Linked DNA regions of Homo sapiens: region 1 is linked to region 2. A link means that fine-mapping ties the variant in region 2 to the expression of a gene that starts in the linked region. Tissue or cell type: whole blood. Region 2 holds a variant in brackets; the other region holds the start of a gene. Each region is shown on its reference strand, or each on the opposite one. Region 1 holds the start of ALOX15B (arachidonate 15-lipoxygenase type B). Region 2 overlaps THADA (THADA armadillo repeat containing).

The links. PIP is the estimated chance that this variant, and not a neighbour inherited with it, causes the effect.
Region 1: ALOX15B starts here. The variant in region 2 is the best candidate, but not a certain one, in a credible set for the expression of ALOX15B in whole blood (TOPMed, PIP 0.52).

Annotation. Positions count from the first base shown.
Region 1 is chr17:8,031,766-8,042,740 of GRCh38, reverse strand. It overlaps ALOX15B (arachidonate 15-lipoxygenase type B), which reads right to left and starts at 3,682. Exons shown (of 14, transcript NM_001141.3): 1 at 3,439-3,682; 2 at 3,136-3,355; 3 at 2,758-2,839; 4 at 250-372. The coding sequence starts at 3,585. It also overlaps the pseudogene LOC124904131.
Region 2 is chr2:43,488,467-43,499,660 of GRCh38, reverse strand. THADA (THADA armadillo repeat containing) reads left to right here. Exons shown (of 38, transcript NM_022065.5): 25 at 706-828. It also overlaps the pseudogene RN7SL531P. Among named protein-coding and RNA genes, the nearest start is that of THADA, 100 kb to the left of the region's middle. The variant G/A (reference allele first, on the strand shown) is at 5,292.

The DNA of each region.
Region 1 (10,975 bases), not on the chromosome of region 2:
CTGGGAGACCCTTCCCTGTCAGCCAGCCTTATGCCTCTTGGGATCCTGAACCAGCCTCCGGGCCCAAGGTAGTCACTACCCCTAAGGTAGCTGTTGCTCTGTGGGATTGGTAGTGGGAAGGAGGCTGTTTCCTGGGCAGGACTATGTGACTCATATCACTGAGGGTGGGGGAACTGACTAGGGGAGGGCAGAAGGCAGAGGTCATAGGGCATCTGAGGCCCAGGGGCAGGGAAGGGTGGGCATCCTCACGCAGAGCCAGCCTGTAGATAAAAGTTGGCATTCTTGGCTGTGGAGTATTTGATATTGAGCTCCAAGTCTTCCACTGTCTTTTCATCCAGGCAGTGAGGCCAACCTGGGTTGTAAGCCTTCCACCTGGAGGGTAGAGAGGGAAGGTGGTCAGCAAGAGGCCTCAGGGAGACTCTTTGCTAGGGCAGATGGAGTGGCAGTCCCCTTGGGGGGCCTGGTCACAGCCAGACCCCTTCAGCCAAGAGGGCCCTCCTGGGAGCTGCCCTTCCATTCTACCCAAGGAGGCTGCAAGGGAGCTGCCATTTTCCCACAGTGAGATGGCTCCCCTGGTCAAGGGTGATTGGTCCAGAGTTGAGCACCTGACTAGAGCTGGGCCAATCAGAGTCCTTTCCAGGGAATTTGCCATTGGGGCTGAGCCAGAGAGGTGGTCTCTCTCTGGATATGTAGATTATAGCAGTAAACACAGACTGTTAGTTATGGCCATTTTCCACTGGGTGGACAATTCCTGCCTGTGTTTCTGTAAGTGCCTCTGTGTCTGGCCGACAAACTTTTTTTCTGCCTGCTAGTTGGAGTTAGCTTTTGTTCTTGCAACTATAGAAGTCCCGACTAACACAGACGCATCTTGTAGAGGCGAGACTATCCTGGGACAGGGGCTGCGCAGAAGGTTTCAGTTGCCTTTGGTAGGTGTCCCATAGAGAGGCACTTCAGCCTTCATAGTTTAGGGGGAGCCGCCCGAGGCATCTCTAAATTCTATTCTCAAACAAGCAACACAGCCAAAGACCTTCCAGGGAAATGGTAAATTCATGTATCTGCAAACTTGATGACCCCTAGCCAGTCATGCTCTCACTCATTCATTCTTTGATTCATTCAAAACTTGCTTTTGGGTTTGAGCTTTCAACTTCAAAGAAAAATTTGCAATTAAAGTACACTGCCACCAGGTGGTGGCCAAACCCTTCCTCTCAGACTTGAATCCCTCTCACATAGAGATCTTGGTTAAATGCAGATTCTGATTTCTAACAAGCTCCCAGGCAATGCTGTTGCAATGGATCTGAGACCTCACTGTACGTTTTATAAGAGCCTAGAGTGTTGGAACAGAGTGAACTGAAAGACAGGAACAACAGCAAGAGCACACAGTTGTGCAAGACTTAGCAGCTGACCACCTACATTCTTAACCATTTTCTCATTTGTTCCTCCTAACCCAAACGAGATTGGTATTCTTAGTTTCTTTTACAGAAGAAAATAAGAATTGAAGAGATGAAAAAATTGGTCTAAGATCTCACAGCTCGTTTTGGCAGGGCCTAGGCTGACTCTGGGTCTCCATGGACACAGTAGATCTCAATGTCTATTCCCTCTCTTGGGGCTGTTGCTGCCAGATTTGGTGCAATGGTTTCCTTAGGGGTGGAATTCATGACACATGGAGAATCACCAGGAACCAAATGAGCCTGTGGCTGCTCTGATCCCACAGACCAGGAGCAAAAGCCTGCAGCCCAGGCTTTAGATAGCAGATGAGTTGGCCGGATCAAGATCTTTTGAAAATCTGTTTCTGAATGCAGTTCCTGGCTTTGTGCCAAGGGAATCCTCACTAGCGGCCCCAACTCCTCTGTTATCTCCAAGTCCCAGTTTTCCCCTGTGATCTCCAATGCTGAGCCCAGAGCACAGAGAGAGCCCCCATCTCACCCCTTGCTAGCCCTGGAGGGTGAGTTTCCTGGGGCTTGAAGGGCGTGTTTCTGGCTCTACTCAGATTTCTGGGAGGACACAACAAGCCGATGCATGAAAAAGTCCCAGGGCAAGGAAGACACCAGCAAAGGTAAGGCATTTAAAGCAGTTTCTTTCTCTTTCTTTTCTTTCTTTCTTTCTTTCTTTCTTTCTTTCTTTCTTTCTTTCTTTCTTTCTCTCTCTTTCTTTCTCTCTTTCCTTCCTTTTCCTTCCTTCCTTTTTTTTTTTCTTTTTTTGAGATGGAGTTTTGCTCTGTCCCCCATGCTGGAGTGCAATGGCGTGATCGGCTCACTGCAACCTCCACCACCCGGGTTCAAGCTATTCTTCTGCCTCAGCCTCCCATGTAGCTGAGAATACAGGTGCCCGCCACCCTACCCAGCTGATTTTTGTATTTTTAGTAGAGATGGGGTTTCGCCCTGTTGGCCAGGCTGGTCTCGAACTCCCGACCTCCAGTGATCCGCCTCCCTCAGCCTCCCAAAGTGCTGAGATTACAGGTGTGAGCCACCACGGCACCTGGCCCTAGAGCAGTGTTTTTCAAACATCAGTGGCCACCAGAGTCATCTGGAAGGCTTGTCAAAACAAAAATTCCCACTCTACACCCTCAGTGTCGTAGTAGGTTGGAGGTGGCCTGAGAATTTGCATTTCTAATACGTTCCTGTAGACGCTGCTGATCCCAGGAGCAGCTTTGATAGGAGAGGTGGAGGCAGGGGCTTTTAATCTCTGTCATGACCAGGACACTCAAGCTGCCCCTCATCGTTTGGGCACACCCTCCCCCATCAGTAACCCCCTCCTCACTGGTACATCTCCTGCCGGGCCTGAAGCTCCTCCTGGCGCTGTTGCTGGAGCACAGGGTGGTGGTCTGCCCAGGACACCTTGGCTGTGGGAGAAGGGGAGTAGGTTGGGGTGGGGAGAGAAACTCACCATCACTACCACCAGCCACACAGTCTCCACGATTGCCACCCTCTACCAGGTCCCCTCCTCCCATAAGTACAGTTTCTCCTACACCAGGCTGCTACCTCCCGCTCCCCAAGGCTCCGCCATTCCCTCTCCTCTGCCCGCTACTCTGTGGCCACACCAGCTCACCTCTCCATTTCACCTGCCCTTCTCCCCAACCCCCAGTCCCCTACCCCTTCCTGTGCTCCCCCTGCAGCCCCAGCCCGGCCCGCCCCTCACCTGTACCCTCCTGCAGCACCAGGGTCCCCGCCCCCTCCAGCCACTGGTAGCAGGGGAAGAGGAGGTGGCCGCCCCGCGGCGGTGTCAGCTGGAACCAGCGGCAGAACCAGGCATCCGGGGCCAGGGGCCCCAGCAGGGGCAGCACTGGGGGCGCCTTGTGCACGCGCAGCAGCAGCACTCGGCCTACGTCCTCCGGGAGCGTCACCTGGAAGTCCTCCTCCTGAGGGGAGGTTAAGTATGCGTCAGGCCGGACCCTCCTGCTCGCCCCCTTCACCTCCACCCCATCCACTCCCACGCACTCACAGCGCCCGCAGTGAACTCCTTGCCGAGATTGTCCAGGGGCAGTGGGGGGCTCTCTCCCCGGGTCCCCACGATGCTGACAGACACTTTGTCCCATGTGCCAGCCCCGAAGGCTTCTCCGGTGGACACCCTGACCCTGAACTCGGCCATGCTGCCAGCCTAAGTCCAGCTCTCTACGGCGCACAGGGCTGCAGAGCGGGGCTCCCCCCTGGGACACGCCTGGTTATTGCCCCTGGTTATTGCCACTGACTCCAAGCCCAGTGGACTCCTCTAAAAAGCACGTCCGTTTCAGGGCGGGGAGGGGCGGGGCGGAGAGGCTGGAACACGCAACTAAAGTGGGGGTGGGCGGGGGATTGGCAGCGCTGGGAACAGGAGGGACTAAGAATACCCTGAGGTTTGGGGAACGGGGCCTTTCAGTGGTGGTGCCAGGCCAGAGAGCCTAGAGTTGGGACCCAGTTGGGGTGGGGGTAGATTTGTGCCCACCACGTCTGTTTGTTTTCCTTCTTAGCCTTAGAAGTCTATGCAAAAATATCACCCCATTTCCCACAACTCTTCTTGGGCCTGCGTTCATTATTTTTAAAATTTATTTATTTATTTATTTTTGAGACAGAGGCTTGCTCTGTCGCCAGGCTGGAGTGCAGCAGCATGATCTCGGCTCACTGGAACCTCCTCCTCCTGGGTTCAAGTGATTCTCCTACCTCAGCCTCCCCAGTAGCTGAGACAACAGGCGAGTGCCACCATGCCCAGCTAATTTTTGTATTTTAGTAGAGACGGGGTTCCACCATGTAGGCCAGGATGATCTTGATCTCTTGACCTCATGATCCGCCTGCCTCGGCCTCCCAAAGTGCTGGGATTACAGGCGTGAGCCACCGCGCCCAGCCTACATTCATTATTTTATTTCATTCAATAATTAATGTTCAGAACTACCTCTGTGCCAGGTGCTATGCTCACTGCTATTGATAAAGGCCCAGGCAAGACCTAGTGCTTGCTCTCATGGAGATTAAAAATCAAGTGTGAGGCCAGGCACAGTTGCTGGCCAACATGGTGAAACCCCATCTCTACTAAAAATACAAAAAAATTAGCCAAGCGTGGTGGCGGGCGCCTGTAGTCCCAGCTACTCAGGAGGCTGAGGCAGGAGAATAGCTTGAACCCGGAAGGCGGAGGTTTCAGTGAGGTGAAGTTGTGCCATTGCACTCCAGCATGGGCGACAGAGCAAATCTCGGTCTAAAAAAAAAAAATCAAGTGTGAGAGAAAATAAGTAAACCAACACATAATTTCAGATGATAATAAGTGCAATGAAGGAAATGAAACAGACTAATGTGAAGGAGTGAGAAGCAGAGGTGGGAAGGGAGGCGTTCAGAGCCTCAGAGGAGGTGAAAGGATCTGTCTGGGGAACAGAGTTTTGTGCAGAGGAAACTGTTCCTGAAGAGGCCCTGTGGTTAGGAAAAGCTTGGCTTGTTGGAGGAGGGAAAGGCAAGAGTGCAGTGAGGGAGGGATTTGGGGGAGAGATGCCAAGGGGAAGTTATGGATTTGGGCTTTGGGGGAATAACATAACAGATTTGGGGTTTTCGGTCTGGAGATGCTAAGTTTGAGATGGCCATTAGACATCCAAGTGGAGAACCCACGTCTGGGCATAGAGCTCAGGACTGCAGGTGTGCATCTTTGAGTCACAAGCACACAGGTACATCTATACCACAGGCTGGTGGAGATCACTAGGCAGAGAATATCCTATAAGTAGAGAAGAGAAGAGGCACAAGCTGTGCCCTAAGGTCCTCTGATATTTGGAAGTCATGCAAAGGAGTGGAAGCAGCAAAGTTCAGTCAATGAGGTAGGAGGAGAACGATGCCGGCAGACACTTTGTCCTCTTGTGCCTGTCACAGTGTTTCATGAAAGCCAACTGAAGTGAGAGTGACTTATCATGTATATTCCATATATACCATGGAATACTATACAGCCATGAAAAAGAATGAGATCATGGTCAGGCATGGTGTCTCACACCTGTAATCTCAGAACTTTGGGAGGCTGAGGCAGGCAGATCACGAGGTCAGGAGTTCGAGACCAGCCTGACCAACATGGTGAAACCCCATCTCTACTAAAAATACAAAAATTAGCTGGGTGTGGTGGTGACTGCCTGTAATTCCGGCTACTCAGGAGGCTGAGGCAGGAGAATCATTTGAACCCGGGAGGCAGAGGTTGCAATTCCAGCTACTCAGGAGGCTGAGGCAGGAGAATCACTTGAACCCGGGAGGCGGAGGTTGCAGTGAGCCAAGATCGTGCCACTGCACTCCAGCCCTGGTGATAGAGCGAGACTTCGTCTCAAAAAAAAAAAAAAAAAGAATGAGATCATGTCCTTTGTGGGAACATGGATAGAGCTGGAGGCCATTATCCTTAGCAAACTAACACAGGAACAGAAAACCAATATTGCACGCTCCAGTTCTTACTTTCAATTCTTTAGGATATATACCTAGTAGTAGAATTGCTGGATCATATGGTAACAGTATGTTTAATTTTTTTTTTTTTTTTTTGAGACCGAGTCTCGCTCTGTTGCCCAGGCTGGAGTGCAGTGGCGCAATCTGTGCTCACTGCAACCTCCGCCTCCTGGGTTTAAGCGATTCTCCTGCCTCAGCCTGCTAAGTAGCTGGGATTACAGGCGCCTGCCACCATGCCCAGCTAATTTTTGTATTTTTAATAGAGATGGGGTTTCACCACATTGACCAGGCTGATCTTGAACTCCTGACCTCAGGCGATCCACCCACCTCGGCCTCCCAAAGTGCTGGGATTACAGACGTGAGCCACTGTGCCCAGCCTGTATATTTAATTTTTTGAGGAACCGCCATACTATTTTCCACAATGGACGCAACATTTTACATTCCCACCAGCAATGCAGGAGGAGGGTTCCAGTTTGTCCACCAATGCTTGTTATTTTCTGTTTATTTGATAATAGCCATTTTAATGGGCCTGAACTGGTATCTCATTGTGGTTTTGATCTGCATTTCCCTAATAATCGGTAATGTTAAGCATCTTTCCATTTGCTTGTTGGCCATTTATGTATCACCTTTGGAGCAATGTCTGTTAATGTCCTTTGCCCAAACCATCCGTTCTTAATTCTTATCCATTGCTAGGTTGAATTTTAGATTTATCATGTGAGTCGTATGCAAGACCCACACGTTTTCAAATACGTCAAATGTTTTTATTTATAGATCACTCTTTTTTTTCCTAAAGTAGTATCTATAGTACATTTCTTTATTCATATATCTTCACATGGTCAAGTTTTCTTTCATACATCCAAAATGTAGTGTGATGTTTTCTTATTCACCAAATGTTAGCTCTACTTGTAGTCTGGTTCCAAACTAATCAGCCTGCTTTTAAATTTTAAGACATTTGTTGAAAAAAAAATTTTTTTTCTTTTTTCTTTTTTTTGAGATGGAGTCTCGCTCTGTCGCCCAGGCTGGAGTGCAGTGGCGCAATCTTGGCTCACTGCAAGCTCCGCCTCCCGGGTTCACGCCGTTCTCCTGCCTCAGCCTCCTGAGTAGCTGGGACTACAGGCTCCCACCACCACGCCTGGCTAATTTTTTGTACTTTTAGTAGAGACAGGGTTTCACCGTGTTAGCCAGGATGGTCTCCATCTCTGACCTTGTGATCCGCCTGCCTTGGCCTCCCAAGACATTTGTTGAAAGTTTATAGGATCAAACCAAACTCAAGTGGTATCATTTTTAAACATTGGATTGTACATTATTGTAAAGGTACCAGTAACCATTATTATTAAGAATAAGTTAGTGATTATAGCTCCTTTTGTAATAATTAGATCACTCTCATAATACAAATCAATATTGCAAGTATCCATGTGCCAAAATCTAGTGAGTCTAGGAAAAAGTGAAAATGCTTTATTGTCTCTTCATCCTAAAATACATCCTTGGATACTTAGAAATTTCAGTGAATCTATTTTAAAGGAAACTTTGTGTCACTATTGTAAATCGAAAATTCGTTTCATTTCCCATAATAGAAGGTAAGAATAAAGGAGAATGCAATGAAAACCAAACAGTGTAATTCAATTCCAGGTAGATTCTTTTGCCTGTGGCCAGCTCCCTGTTCCAGGAGATTATCTAACGCTAAAGGGGTGCTAAAAACATATCAATACCAAATTGACACTTTCTCCCTGAAAAGGGGAATTGATTTGCCGTTTTATCTCAATTAAACCTGTGATCTTGCACCTCCAAGGACTTGTCCTGGAGTAGCGTTGCTCAACGTGTGGCAAGCAGATGGCTGGCATCAGATGTCTTTGAATGCTTATTAAAAATGTCAGTTCCGGGTTGGATGTGACTCCTGCCTATAATCCCAGCACTTTGGGAGGCAGAGGTGGGTGGATCACTTGAGGTCAGGGGTTTGAGACCAGCCTGGCCAACATGGCAAAACACCATCTTTACTAAAAATACAAAAATTAGCTGGGCCTGTTGGTGGGTGCCCATGGTCCCAGCTACTCAGGAGACTGAGGCAGGAGAATCGCTTGAACCCAGGACGCAGAGATTCCAGTGAGCCGAGATCATGCCACTGCACTCCAGCCTGGGCAGCAGAATGAGCAGTGTGAGACTCTGTCTCAAAAGAAAAAAAAAATGCCAGTTCCCCATCCCTGCCTCACACCAAGGAGGCAGACTCCCCAGAAGATTAGCCAGGGAATCTACATTTTACAGTAGGGTGATTCTTCTTTAGAACCACTGCCCTTGATCCTTTTGTACTTGGTAAGCATGATGATTGGGTTTTTATGCTTATATATGAGACATGCTTGTCTCAAATCTTGTTACAGCACATTACCCTTCCTACTTAAAAGGTTAAAAAAAAAAAGAACCATCGCCCTTGATCATGTAAATATTTTATTACATTCTGTCCTACAGCTCATGATGATCTCAGACAGGTTGAACAGGAGTTGTCACCCAACCCCTCAAGATATAGATGAAGAAATCTGAGCCCTGACTGGGAAAGGGGTTTACTTGAGATTTTAAAATGTCCATTAAGTCATGTGCACCCCATCTTTGAGCCCCTGAATGATTTGGCTCCTGCTTGCCTTCTTTTTTTTTTGAGATGGAGTCTTGCTCCGTTGCCCAGGCTGGAGTGCAATGGCACCAACTCGGCTCACTGCAACCTCTGCCTCCTGGGTTCAAGCCATTCTCCTGCCTCAGCCTCCTGAGTAGCTGGGATTACAGGTGCCCATCACCACGCTCGGCTAATTTTTTTGTATTTTTAGTAGAGATGAGGTTTTGCCACATTGGCCAGGCTGGTCTCAAACTCCTGACCTCAGGTGGTCCACCTGCCTCAGCCTCCTAAAGTGCTGGGATTACAGGCGTGAGCCACTGCACCGGGCCTTTGTTTCCCTCCCTCCCTCCCTCCCTTCCTTCCTCTTTCCTGTCTTCTCTTTTACTTTCTTTTAAATTCGAATATTCTCATCAAAGCTGTAGATGCATATGATTTAAAGAGTCAAATAGTTCTACAAATCTCTCACCAACAACTGCTTCCTGCTCCACTTCTGTCCTTTCCCTCTCATGAAAGACAATAACTTTCACTACTTTCTTTGATAATCTAAACCACTGCATCTCAAAATAGCATGCATGATTGTTTATTTAATGATTTTTCAGCTTTAGGCAAATATTGGCTTCCCCCTGTGGAAGATAGGATTTTTTTTTTTTTTTTTTGAGACGGAGTTTCGCTCTTGTTACCCAGGCTGGAGTGCAATGGCATGATCTTGGCTCACCGCAACCTCCGCCTCCTAGGTTCAAGTGATTTTCCAGCCTCAGCCTCCTGAGTAGCTGGGATAACAGGCATGCGCCACCACGCCCGGCTAATTTTTGTATTTTTAGTAGAGACAGGGTTTCACCATGTTGGTCAGGCTGGTCTCGAACTCCTGACCTTGTGATCTGCCCGCCTCGGCCTCCCAAAGTGCTGGGATTACAGGCGTGAGCCACCGTGCCTGGCCTGGAAGATAGGATTTCATTTTCTTTCCTAGTCTTGCTCCCATTTGCAAACGTTTCTCACCCCCATCCTTCTAGTACAGTTTTATTAGGACCGAGCAAACGACACTCAGTGTTTACGTGATTTTTGTTATGGATATGCTATTCATAGGGGACATTTATAGTATACTGTAATTATTTTTTTCTTCCATACAAAACCTTTTGTTGTTTCTCTATATAATAATGATTATATTATTGGTCTGGTTTTCTATATATTTTTCATTAGTTTAATCCGAAACTTCACCACTTGTTCAGATTGCCTCTCTATCAGTTCAGACACATCCATTTCCCAGTCGGTTCCACTGTGTGAAGGAGTCTCTCCAGTGTGTCCTGTTGGCTTCTTTCCTGGTCCTCCTGAGCTCTTGCTTCACCACCATCCTTTGTCTTCCTTTTACCTCTCTGCTGTGCTGGAGATTTGTTTCCCGGATCTCATGTTTTGTTATTTCCTGGCTTATTTCTTGGGCTAAGCAAGAAAGGGTATGTGGGAGGGAGGAGAAGTTTTTAAGACTTTGCATGTCTGGAAATGCCTATAATCTATCTATACACTTAAATAGTAGCTCTGAAATCAATTTTTTTTTTTTTTTGGTTCGGAATTTTGAAAGCACTGCTCCAATGGTAGCAGTGTTGCTATAAAGAAGCCTAGAGCTATTTGCATTCCTGATTATTTTCATATGACATGACATTTTCTCCAGAAGCTTTTAGGAGCCTCTCCCTGGCCCAGCTTCCATAATTTCACAATGATGTGCCAAGGTGTAGTCAATTTTTATTAATTGTGCAGTGCTCTCAGTAGGTCCTTTCAGTCTTGAAATTCATGACCCTCAGTGTTGGGAAGATGTCTTGAATTATTTCATCGATTATTTCCTTCTCTTTATTTTTTCAGTGTCTCTTTTTTGAACTTATACTTTAGATGTTGGGTCTCCCAAACTGGCTCTCCAGTTCCCATTCTCGATTTCATTTATTCTCCATTTTATTTTATTTCCAATTTCCCATCATTTTGCCTTTTGTTCTGTTTTCTAGTAGATTTTCTCAACTTTCTCCTCTAGTCCTATTGAGCTATTATTCCTCCTATCATATTTTTTTCACTGGTGGGGTCTTGCTATGTTGCCCATGCTGGCCTTGAACTGCTAGACTCAAGTGACCTTCCTACCTCACCCTCCTGAGTAGCTGGGAATATAGACATGGGCCACCATGTCCAGCCTGTGTATATTTGTTTTATTAGTAATCTGTTTGTGTTTCATGCTTGCGATATTTGACCTTGTTTCTCTGAGGATATTAGTGATAAGGTATTTTGGATTTTTGTTTGTTTCTTTTTTTGTTTTTGTTTTAAGATGGAATCTCTCTCTGTCACCCAGGCTGGAGTGCAGTGGCACGATTTTGGCTCACTGCAACCTCTGCCTCCTGGGTTCAAGCGATTATCTTGCCTCAGCCTCCTGAGTAGCTAGGACTACAGGCATTCGGCACCATGCCCAGATAATTTTCATATTCTTAGTAGAGACGGCGTTCGCAATGTTGGCCAGGCTGGTCTTGAACTCCTGACTTCA
Region 2 (11,194 bases):
TCACACCTATAATGCCATCACTTTGGGAGGCCAAGGCAGGTGGATCACCTGAGATCAGGAGTTCAAGACCAGCCTGGCCAACATGTTGAAACCCTGTCTCTACTAATTATACAAAACTTAGCCGGCCGTGGTGGCACATATCTGTAATCGCAGCTACTCGGGAGGCTGAGGCAGGAGAATCGCTTGAACCTGGGAGGTGGAGGTTGTAGTGAGCCGAGACTGTGCCATTCTGTTCCAGCCTGGGCGACAAGAGTGAAACTCCATCTAATAAAATAAAATAAAATAAAAAATAAAGTTTTTTTTAAAGTTTCTTAATTCCATGGTGATCAGAGCATAATCTATAAGTTATTAATTACTTGGTATTTGTTGAGACTTTATTTGTGGCTAGGTATGAGGGATTTTAGAAAATAAATGTTTCATGTGTGCTCGAAAAGAATGTGTTGTCTCTGTATTTTAGGTGCAGGCTTCTACATATGTCCATTGGATCAAACTTTTTTATAGCATTGTTTGAATCTTACTAATTTTTTGTAAAATGGTTTATCAGCTACTGGATGTGTTTTATTAAATCTGCTATTTCATTTGCGGATTATCCATTTCTTGTAATTCAGTAAATTTTTTGTTTTGAAGCTGTACTATTGGATATGTGTAGATTTAGAATTAGCCATGGTTTTCAACCCACAACTAATTTTGAACTTCTTGTTTTAGGTTCATGCTTTAAATATCCTTAGAGCATTGTTCAGAGATACGCGCCTGGGAGAAAATATTATTCCTTATGTTGCTGATGGAGCTAAGGCTGCAATTCTGGGTTTTACATCACCGGTCTGGGCAGTAAGTGCTGTCACTATTTATTTTCATTGATTTAATTATGCTTCTGAGTAGGTTTTAATAAACTAATCTTTCACTGGGTGATAAAAAATATTTCCTGCCCTTTACCATGAATTTTCTTAGAAATCTTTGGATCAAGCTACATTTTTGATTCTTGATATTTCATGGTTCCATTTTCACTCATTTGTTGGCTTGTTAGCCATCTTTCTTTTTTTTTTAATTTTATTGATTGCTTTAGGGTTTACAGTATGTATGTTTGACTGATCACAGACTACTCTCAAGTGATATTACACCATGTCACTTAAAGTATAAGAACTTAATAATAGTGCACTTCTGTTTCTCTCCTCCCAATCTATGTGCTGTTATTGTTACACATTTTACTTTTATGTGTGTTGTAAACTTACACTACATTGTTGTTATTTTTCTTTAAATAGCCAGTTATATTTCTTTTCAATTTACCACTTTAACCGTTTTTTTAAGTATATACAATGCAGTGGCATTATGTGCATTCACAACAACATTTATCAGCACTGTGCATTTCTGGAACATTTTCATCATCCCGAGCAGAAGCTCTGTACTCATTAAACACTAACTCCCATCTCTCATCTCCCTCACCCCTAGTAACCTCTATTCTCCTTTCTGTCTCTGTGGATTTGCCTGGTCTAATACCTCATATAAATGGAATCGTACAATATTTGTCCTTATGTTATTGGCTTCTTTCATGTAGTATATGAAGGGTTGATCCATACTGTGTGGGGTGGGGGGCTGTGTGTGTATATTGGTTTATCAGTATACACACATCCCACATTTTCTTTTTTTAATTTTTATTTAAGTTCCAGGATACATGTGTAGAATGTGCAGGTTTTTTACATAGATATAAGCGTGCCATGGTGGTTTGCTGCACCTACCAACCTGTCATCTAGTTTTTTGTTTGTTTGTTTGTTTTTAATTGAGTTGGAGTCTTGCTCTGTCACCCAGGCTGGAGTGCAGTGGTGTGATCTCAGCTCACTGCAACCTCTGCTTCCTGGGTTCAAGTGATTCTTTTGCCTCAGCCTCCCGAGTAGCTGGGACTACAAGTGGATGCCACCACACCCAGCTAATTTTTGTATTTTTGGTAGAGAGAGGGTTTCACTATGTTAGCCAGGCTGGTCTCGAACTCCTGACCTCGTGATCTGCCCACCTTGGCCTCCCAAAGTGTTGGGATTACAGGCATGAGCCATAACGCTCAGCCTGTCATCTAGGTTTTAAGCCCGGCATGCATTAGCTATTTGTCCTGATGTTCTCCCTCCCTTCCTGACTCCAACAGGCCCTGGTGTGTGTTGTTCCCCTTTCTGTGTCTATGTGTTCTCACTGTTCAGCTCCCAATTATGAGTGAGGACATGCAGTGTTTGGTTTTCTGTTCCTGTGTTAGTTTGCTGAGGATGATGGCTTCTAGCCTCATCCATGTCCCTGCAAAGGACATGATCTCATTCCTTTTTATGGCTGAATAGTATTCCATGGTGTATATGTACTACATTTTCTTTATCCAGTCTATCATTGATGGGCATTTGGTTTGGGTCCATGTCTTTGCTATTGTAAATAGTGCTGCAATAAACATATGTTTCATATATCTTTATAGTCGAATGATTTATATTCCTTTGGGTATATATCCAGTAATGGCATTGTTGGGTCAAATGGTATTTCTGGTTCTAGATCCTTGAGGAATCACCACACTGTCTTCCACAGTGGTTGAACTAATTTACATTTCCACCAACAGTGTAAAAGTTTTCCTATTTCTCCACAGCCTTACCAGCATCTGTTGTTTCTTGACTTTTTAGTAATCACCATTCTGACTGGCGTGAGATGGTATCTCATTGTGGTTTTGATTTGTATTTCTCTAATCATCAGTGATGTTGAACTACCACATTTTCTTTATCCAAATTCATCTGTTGATGGACGTTTAGGTTGTTTCCACTTTTTGGCTATTATGAATAATGCTGCAATGAATTATAATGTATAAATTATCTGAGTCATTTTAGTTCTTTTGGGTATATCATATGGTAATTCCATGTTTAACTTTTTGAGGAATGAACAAACTTCTTCCCCAGCAGCAGCACCATTTTATACTCCCATCAGCCATGCACAAGTTCCAGTTTGTTTAGATCTTTACCAATACTCGTTATCTTTTTTTTTTTGATAATAGCCATCTTAATGGGTGTGAAGTGGCATCTCATTCTGATTTTGATTTGCATTTCCCTAATGATTAATTATGTTGATCTGGAAACAAAACAACTCTGAGCGTATAAATGTGTCTGTATTTTGGATGCTGTGGACTCTGCTGTTAGTATGTTAAGTTAGTGCTACAAATAAACTCTATCAAAAGTTTGAAAAAACGAGACACTCGCAAAACATTGAAATGGAAGAGGTTAAATACTGAGTCGCATTTTCTTTTGTAATATGTTCACTGTCCAGAAGCATTTTGATTCAAAACTTTAAAGATAATGGGCAATACCCAGTACAATTGTTGGATTTAAGAAAGTAATTTTTCGTGTGTTTTCTTATGATTTCTGGGAGAAACATTATAGTTTGTTTTCCTATATCATGTCTTCTAGAGTAAGGAGAATAATTATAGATGCTTGAAATGTGGCTTAAAGTAAAAAGTCTGGCAAAGGGAGAAGAGAAAAGAAGCTAGATCTTAATACATTACCTGCAGAGTGGAGTATTTACTAGAAAGTCAGGCTTTCCAGTTAGTAAGCTGCACAAACCATTTCTTACCTGTATGATAAGCCTCTAATTGAGAGTAAGTATTTTGCAGTGAAAGCCAAAGGCACAGACTCCCATTGTGAAGAGGAATCCTTTGAGGTTGCCAACTCTTGCCTAGAAAATTGTGCGTCTTCCTGTAAGAGATACACACTTCTGGAATTCTGTCTAAGAGCATTGCATAACTACTCTTGAGGACACAGAGTTTACCTTTTATACTTACAGGAAGTAGAGCAATGCCTTTATACTGTCAGTAGAGTCAGAGAGGTAGGAATGTGGCTTGACCATCAGGAATACTGGAGATCATAAAAGTGATTGTCAGAAATATCAATATTGCTTTCTTGAAGCCATTAGTTCCAGATGAACCAAGAAATATTTTCCGTGAAAGGACTTTCTGAGAGTGAAGCCTGGTGATTCGTCCAACTTTTTAGTAAAATTCAAACTATCAGAAATGAGTGATTCATTTTTTTTTTGAAAAGACTATTTTTTGAGACCCTAAACAGTAATACATGTGCACTGCAGAAATTTTGAAAATAAAGAAAAGCATAATAAGAACAGTAAAAGTCACCTGTTAAATTACCGTACAGATATGAGCATTCTGATTCATTTTCTTTCTCTTTTTTTATGTGTGGGCTTTACATGTGCATAGTACATGTATGCATACATATCCACAAAAGGCTGCATAAATATATATAAATGTTTTTATTTTCTTTCTAATTTCATAATACTAATAATTTTATTTCTTGGGATCTTCCTTTTTAACACTTTATGAAGGAAACATTTCTATTTAGTTTGCTTTACTAGAGGAAATAAATATCATAGCTATAATGATCAACACTGTTACTTAATATTATCAATGGTTATATTTTCTTCTGTATAAAAATCTAAGATAAAATTTATGAGTCAACCTATTTAATGGATGTGAAGAAGTATTCACTTACAAAAACAATTTACAAAAGCATTCTCTGTTGAAGTGATTTTAAGTGTGATTTTTCCTTAATGCATACGAAATACGGTTTGATTTGCAGAACTTTGATTTGTACACATCCTCTTGGGAATATAACTGTGCCTAAAGCTGGCTACATCTGTACTTTTGACTTGATTGTTTTTCCTGATAAGTTAGGGAAAACACACATGTAAAATGAACTTAATTTTAACTTGCAGTAAAGAAACATTTTTCAGAAAGCATTCATGTATATATTTAATTTGTTTTTACAGACTCCTTAGTCTTTCGTATTGAAACCATACAGATCTCTCAAACTTTGCTACCTAGTAGGCATTCTTAAAATATAGGGAAATGTAGTATGTAAATATTTTCGGCATTAGACATATCTGCTTACTGTATTGTAGATGTTATGTTAAGCACTAGAAATACAAGGATAGATAACACATAATCATAATAATGGCTGTCTTATTGAGTATTTCTCATGTACCTGGCATAATTTACATTGCATTGATTATCTTAGTAGCTTCTGTTATCCAGGTATGTTCTGTTATAATCCTCATTTTACAGATGAAGAAAACAAGGCTCAGAGAGATGAAATAACTCTGCCTAAGGACACAAAACTATTACCTGTCCAACTCCAGAATGTGTGCTATTGTAGAGGAGATGTTTGGGTATTTTAAGAATACAAAGAAGGTACATTTTACCTACCTTCTAGGGTTTTGGCCCTATTTTCTTATTAAACAGAGCTGGAAGTAAAGCCCGGGTCCTAACATTTTATTGA[G/A]TGGTACTAACCAAGACCAGCAGGAATGAAAGAAAAAGGGAAGTGAGGCAAGGAAAGATGAATGATATTACCAAGGGAACCTTAACCTTGCAGAAAATCTGAGCTGGTTGTCTTGTACATGGTGCATCTTCTAGCCAGACCATGTGAAACTACCACCTTTTGGAACAGCCCAATATGTTTGTCTTTTACTGGTCAAAGTTCATCCTTGGGGCATTACCACAATTTGGGCAGGTGTTGGCACAACCCTTGGGCAGCTGCTAGGGAAGCCAGATCGCATGTCCAGTGATGTGGCATCTCATCTGAGTCTGAAAGTGGCTGGATGAACCAGAGCTTCCATGGATATAGTTGGAACAGACCTGAGGTTTGAAATAATGACTTCTACTGTGTTGAAAAGCTCTGCATGAAAGAAATTTATAGCAGGGGAGTCATGGGATGTGATTGATGTAGGTAAAAGTGGAGACTTGATTGTAAGATAGCAAGAGGGAAGGAAGAAGACCAGTCAGGAAGCTATTGTAATAGTTCTACCAAAAGATGGTGGTGGCTCAGCAAAGATGGGGAAAAGTGATAGTCTTTAACATATTATTTATATTAAAAATATTTCAGAGATTAAACCAACCAGTTTAGTTAACAATCTAAGTTAACAGAAAGTAATTTGTGGAACCCGAGAATTTACTAGGCAGTTTTTGTTTAAAAATATCACTCATCTCTCTTTATTATGTTCAGTGACTAGGGGAGGCCTGATCTTCTTTCCTTGCATCCTCATCCTCATTGCAGAACAGGCAATTCTCGGCTTTCCCAGTGGAGCCCGCCCAAAAAACTCCACTGAGTATGCCACTTAGAGTCTTTCTAAGACCCACACTGGGTTTATTTTTATTTTGGACGGAGTCTTGCTCTGTCGCCAGGCTGGAGTGCAGTGGCATAATCTCATCTCACTGCAACCTCTGCCTCCCGGGTTCAAGCGATTCTCCTGCCTCAGCCTCACTAGTAGCTGGGACTACAGGCGCATGCTACCACGCCCAGCTAATTCTTGTATTTTTAGTAGAGACGGGGTTTCACCATGTTGGCTAGAATGGTCTCAATCTCTTGACCTCGTGATCCACCCGCCTTGTCCTCCCAGATTGCTGGAATTACAGGTGTGAGCCACTGCGCCTGGCCTATATTTTTATCTGGTGTATATTTAGCTTGCTTCCCCCAGGGTAATCTGGTTCATAGCATGCAGTGGGTTTCAAAGGAGGGTAGGAAAAAGATCCTGTTAGATCTGCCCAGTAGTGCTGCCATGCCATGGCTACTCTGTGCCTCTGTTGGCACCAGCATCTCCAGGCCCTCTGATAATTATGAGGTTGCCACAAGGGTGCTACACTGAGAGCTGTGTACTGCTGAAACCTAGCTGTGCTCTATTCACTGTGCCGCGTGCCTTGGCATGGAGCTTCATTGACCTAGAGGAAGAGGGACCTTTTTTCTAATTCACTCATATGTACTATATGGGCTAGTTTAAACCCTGTCTCTTCTTTTGTCTGCTCATAGGTGAAGTGTCTTGCTACTTTGGAAGAGGGTCACCAGAAACTCTAGGACATGGCTGGCCCTCCCTTTAATCATAGGCCCAGAAATCCCAGCACAGTTTTCCTGGATTACAGATGATAGACTTGTGACCCAAAGTTTTAACTGTCTTTTCATGGTCACATGGCTAAGAAGTGATGGAAGGCGAATTAGAACCCAAATCTCATTTAGTTTTCTCAGAAAATATTTTTTTCTGCTACCACGTACACAAGACAAAATATTAAGTGTCATGTGTGGATCCCATCCTTAAGAAATTGACTGCCTATTAAGGATAGGGTGTGTGGTGTGTAAATGACCATATTACATAGCAATTGCACATAGTAGGCTGTCCATTCATACTTTTCAAATATTTTTCAAGGGAGCATTTCTATTATATAAGAAAAGCTATATACATAGATAAGAAAAATATACACATATATACATGTGCACACACACACACAGAAGGCTTTGTGTAACCCAGTTTTAATTACCAAACTGTTCTGTATTTTTTTTTTTTTTTTGAGACAGAGTCTCACTGTGTTGCCCAGGCTTGAGTGCAGTGGCGCCATCTTGGCTCACTGCAACCTCCACCTCCCAGGTTCAAGTGATTCTCCTGCCTCAGCCTCCTGAGTAGCTGGGATTACAGGCGCCCGCCACCAAGTCCAGCTAATTTTTGTATTTTTAGTAGAGATGGGGTTTCACCATGTCGGCCAGGCTGGTCTCGAACTCCTGACCTCAAGCAATCCATCTGCCTCGGCCTCCCAAAGTGCTGGGATTACAGGTGTAAGCTACTGCACCCAGCCTCTTCTGTATCTTAAACGAGTCTACATGAAAGCTTTTTCATGCAAGAAAGGAAAGAAAAAGTTATACACTCTGTGAATAGAAGAGAAAAATTTTGGTAACAGTTGTCAGTTTGCAGTTGAATTCCAAGTTCCTATCAACCATGTATTTAGGGCTTGATGGAGAAGGAGGTCAGGAGCAGGAAGTGCTTCCCTCGTGAGAAGGATAGATTTTAGCTGGGATTAAAGTCATGCATTACTTAATGACAGGAATTAATTCTGAGAAATCTGTTGTTTGGGAATTTCATTGTTGTGTGAACATCATATTGTATACATGCACAAACCTAGATGTATAGCCTACTCCACACCTAGGTTGTATGATATAGCTTATTATTCCTAGGCTACAAACTGTACAGCATGCTATCATACTGAGTATGCTACCATGCTGAGTATGTAGGCATTTGTAACACAGTGTTAATTATTTGTATGTCTAAACATAGAAAAAGTACAGTAAAAATACAATATTATAATCGTATGGGACTATCATTACATATGTGGTCCATTGTTGACCACAGCATCATTTTGTGGTTCATTACAGCTATTATCATTTCTCCATTTTTAGCTGTACTACTGCTTACCCTTTTCTGTCTTTACTCTCCTTTTTACTTATTAATGGCAATAACTGCGGTTACTTTTGCACCAACCTAATGTGTTTTCCATCTATCCTTCCAAAAAGGGACATGTTTTATTGCCAATACTACTAATGTATTACTCACATTAAGATTGCTATCAATGATTCATATTAGCATTTATTGTCAGTGAATTAGGAGTTGATAATGTAGTTTGTTAGTCACAACCTCTTTCTCAATTCTTTGTCTACTTCAGTTTCCTCCTTGTTAGCTTTATTTATAGTGGATGGGAACAGAAAATATGGATGAAATAGTAAAACATACAAAGCAATACCTGAAACAGATATCCTTGAACCATTCATACTGTCACACAGAAATCTAGGGGACACTCTTCTGTCTTAAGTAGGAAGTAGGCTTTCATGCCAGTTATTTTGCTCTATATTTACAATAACTCTTTTAAGTGTTGTTCTGTATAACTTACAGAATTCTAAAACAGAGTATGTATTTTTCAACCTATAAAAATCAATTACAGTACTCCCCTCCTCAAATTTGAGGAGGATGCATTCCAAGACCCCCAGTGGATGCCTGAAACCATGGTTAGTACTAAACCCTATGGATTCTGTTTTTTCCTATACATACATACCTGTGATAAAGTTTAATTTATAAATTAGATATCATAAGAGATAACAATTATAACAATAGACCATAATAAAAGTTAAGTGAATGTGATTGCTCTCAAAATACGTTAGTGTACTATACCACAGGTAACTGAAACCACAGAAAGCAAAACTGCTAATGAGGGAGGACCATTGTAATGTAATATACTGTGTGAATAGACTAAAGAACAAAACCCACATTATTAAGCAGATACAAAAGAGGCATTTGACAAAATCTAATGCTATTTTATGTGAAAAAAAACTAAGAATGGAAGGGAAATTTCTCAACCTCAGTGGAAAATCCAGAGTCAACAATATACTTGATGGTAAAGGACTGAAATCTTTCTCTCTAAAATCAGGAACAAGACAAGGAAATCCACTCTTGTCACTCCTATTCAACATTGTACTGGAGTTCCTAGTAGGCCAACTAGAGAAGAATAAAAAATAAAAGTTATCCAGTAAAGGAAGATGCAAAACTATCTCTATTTTCTGATGACATGATCTTAAATATAGAAAAATCCTAAGGAATCCACACACATGCAAATTAAAGCTTGTCTATTAGCAAGGTTTCAGGACAAAAGGTCATCATACAGAAATTGTACACTAGCAGTGAAAAATCTAAATGAAATTAAGAAAACAGTTTCATTTATGATAGCATCAAAAAGAATAAAATACTTAGGAATAAATTTAGCAAAGGAACTGCAAGAGTTGTTCACTGAAAATTATCAAACATTTTTTGAAGAAATTATAGGCCTAAATAAATGGAAAGATCTCCTGTGTTCATCACTGGAAGACTTAACTATTGTTAAGATGACGTATTCCCCAAATTAATTAATCTATAGATTCAGCACAACCTCTGTTAAATCCCTTCTAGCTTTTTTTTTTTTTTTTTTTTGCAGATCTTAAAATACATATGGAAATGTGAGGGACCCATAATAGCCAAAACAATCTTGAAAAAGAACAAAGTTGGAGGCCCCACAGGTCCCAATTTCAAAACTTAATGCAAAGCAACAGTAAATTAGAGCTTGTGGCATTGACATAAGGTTAGGCACATAAATCAGCAGATTAGGATTGATTGTACAGAAATAAACCCCCACATTTAATAAAGGTGCCAAGACAATTCAGTAGAGAAAGAATAGCCTTCAACAAATGGTACGGGGACAACTGGATATCCACATGCAAAAGAATGAATGTGATCCCCATCTCATACCATATTCAGATGACTCAAAATGTCTTAAAAACCTAAATGTAAAAGCTAAAACTATAAAACTTGTAGAAGAGGACCTGGGTAAATTTTTGTACCTTGGATTAGATAACATTTAGTTAGATATGACACCTAAGGTACAAGCAATACAAAAATTGATAAATTAGACTGGGAATGAAAAAAACTGATAAATTAGACTCGATCAAAATTAAAAATGTCTGGCTGGGCATAGTGACATGCACCTGTAGTCCCAGCTACTCGGAAGGCTGCAGCTGGAGGATTGTTTGAGCCCAGGAATTCAAGGCTGCAGTGAGCTATGATTACACCACTGCACTCCATCCTGGGCGACAGAGCAAGAAGCTGTCTTAGAAAAGTTAAAAAAAATTTTTTTTAAATAAAGCTTAACCAGCATCAAGAAAAAAAATGTTTTTCAAAGGACACAATCAAGAAAGTATAAAGACAACCCACAGAATGGGAGAAAATATTTGCGTATTATACATCTGATAAGAGTGGAGTGTCCAGAATATATAAAGAACTCTTATAACTCAATAATAAACGACAACCCAATTTTAAAATGGACAAAGAATATTTATCTCCAAAAAAGATAGGCAGATGGCCAGTAAGCACACAAAAGGATACTTAACACCATTAGTCATGAGGGAAATGCTACAATGAGTTACCATTCCATGCCCACTAAAATAAAATGCATGGAAAATAACTAGTATTAGGGAGGATGTGGAGAAATTGGAGAACTGGTGAAATTGGAACGCTAATACATTGCCAGTGAGACTATGAAATGGTGCTACCACTTTGGCAGTTCTTTTGAAGGTTAAACATAGAGTTACTCTGTGACCAAGCAATACTACTTCTAGGTATATAGTCATGAGAAATGAAAACATGTTCACACAAAAACTTGTACATGAATATTCTTAGCAAAATTATTCATAATATTCCAAATTGGAAATAGCCCAAATGTCCGTCAAATGAAGAACAGATTTTAAAAATACGGTATATCTGTACAATGGGATATTATTAAGCCATAAAAAAGGAATAACATACTGATACATGCTACAACATGGGGGAACCTTGAGAACATTAT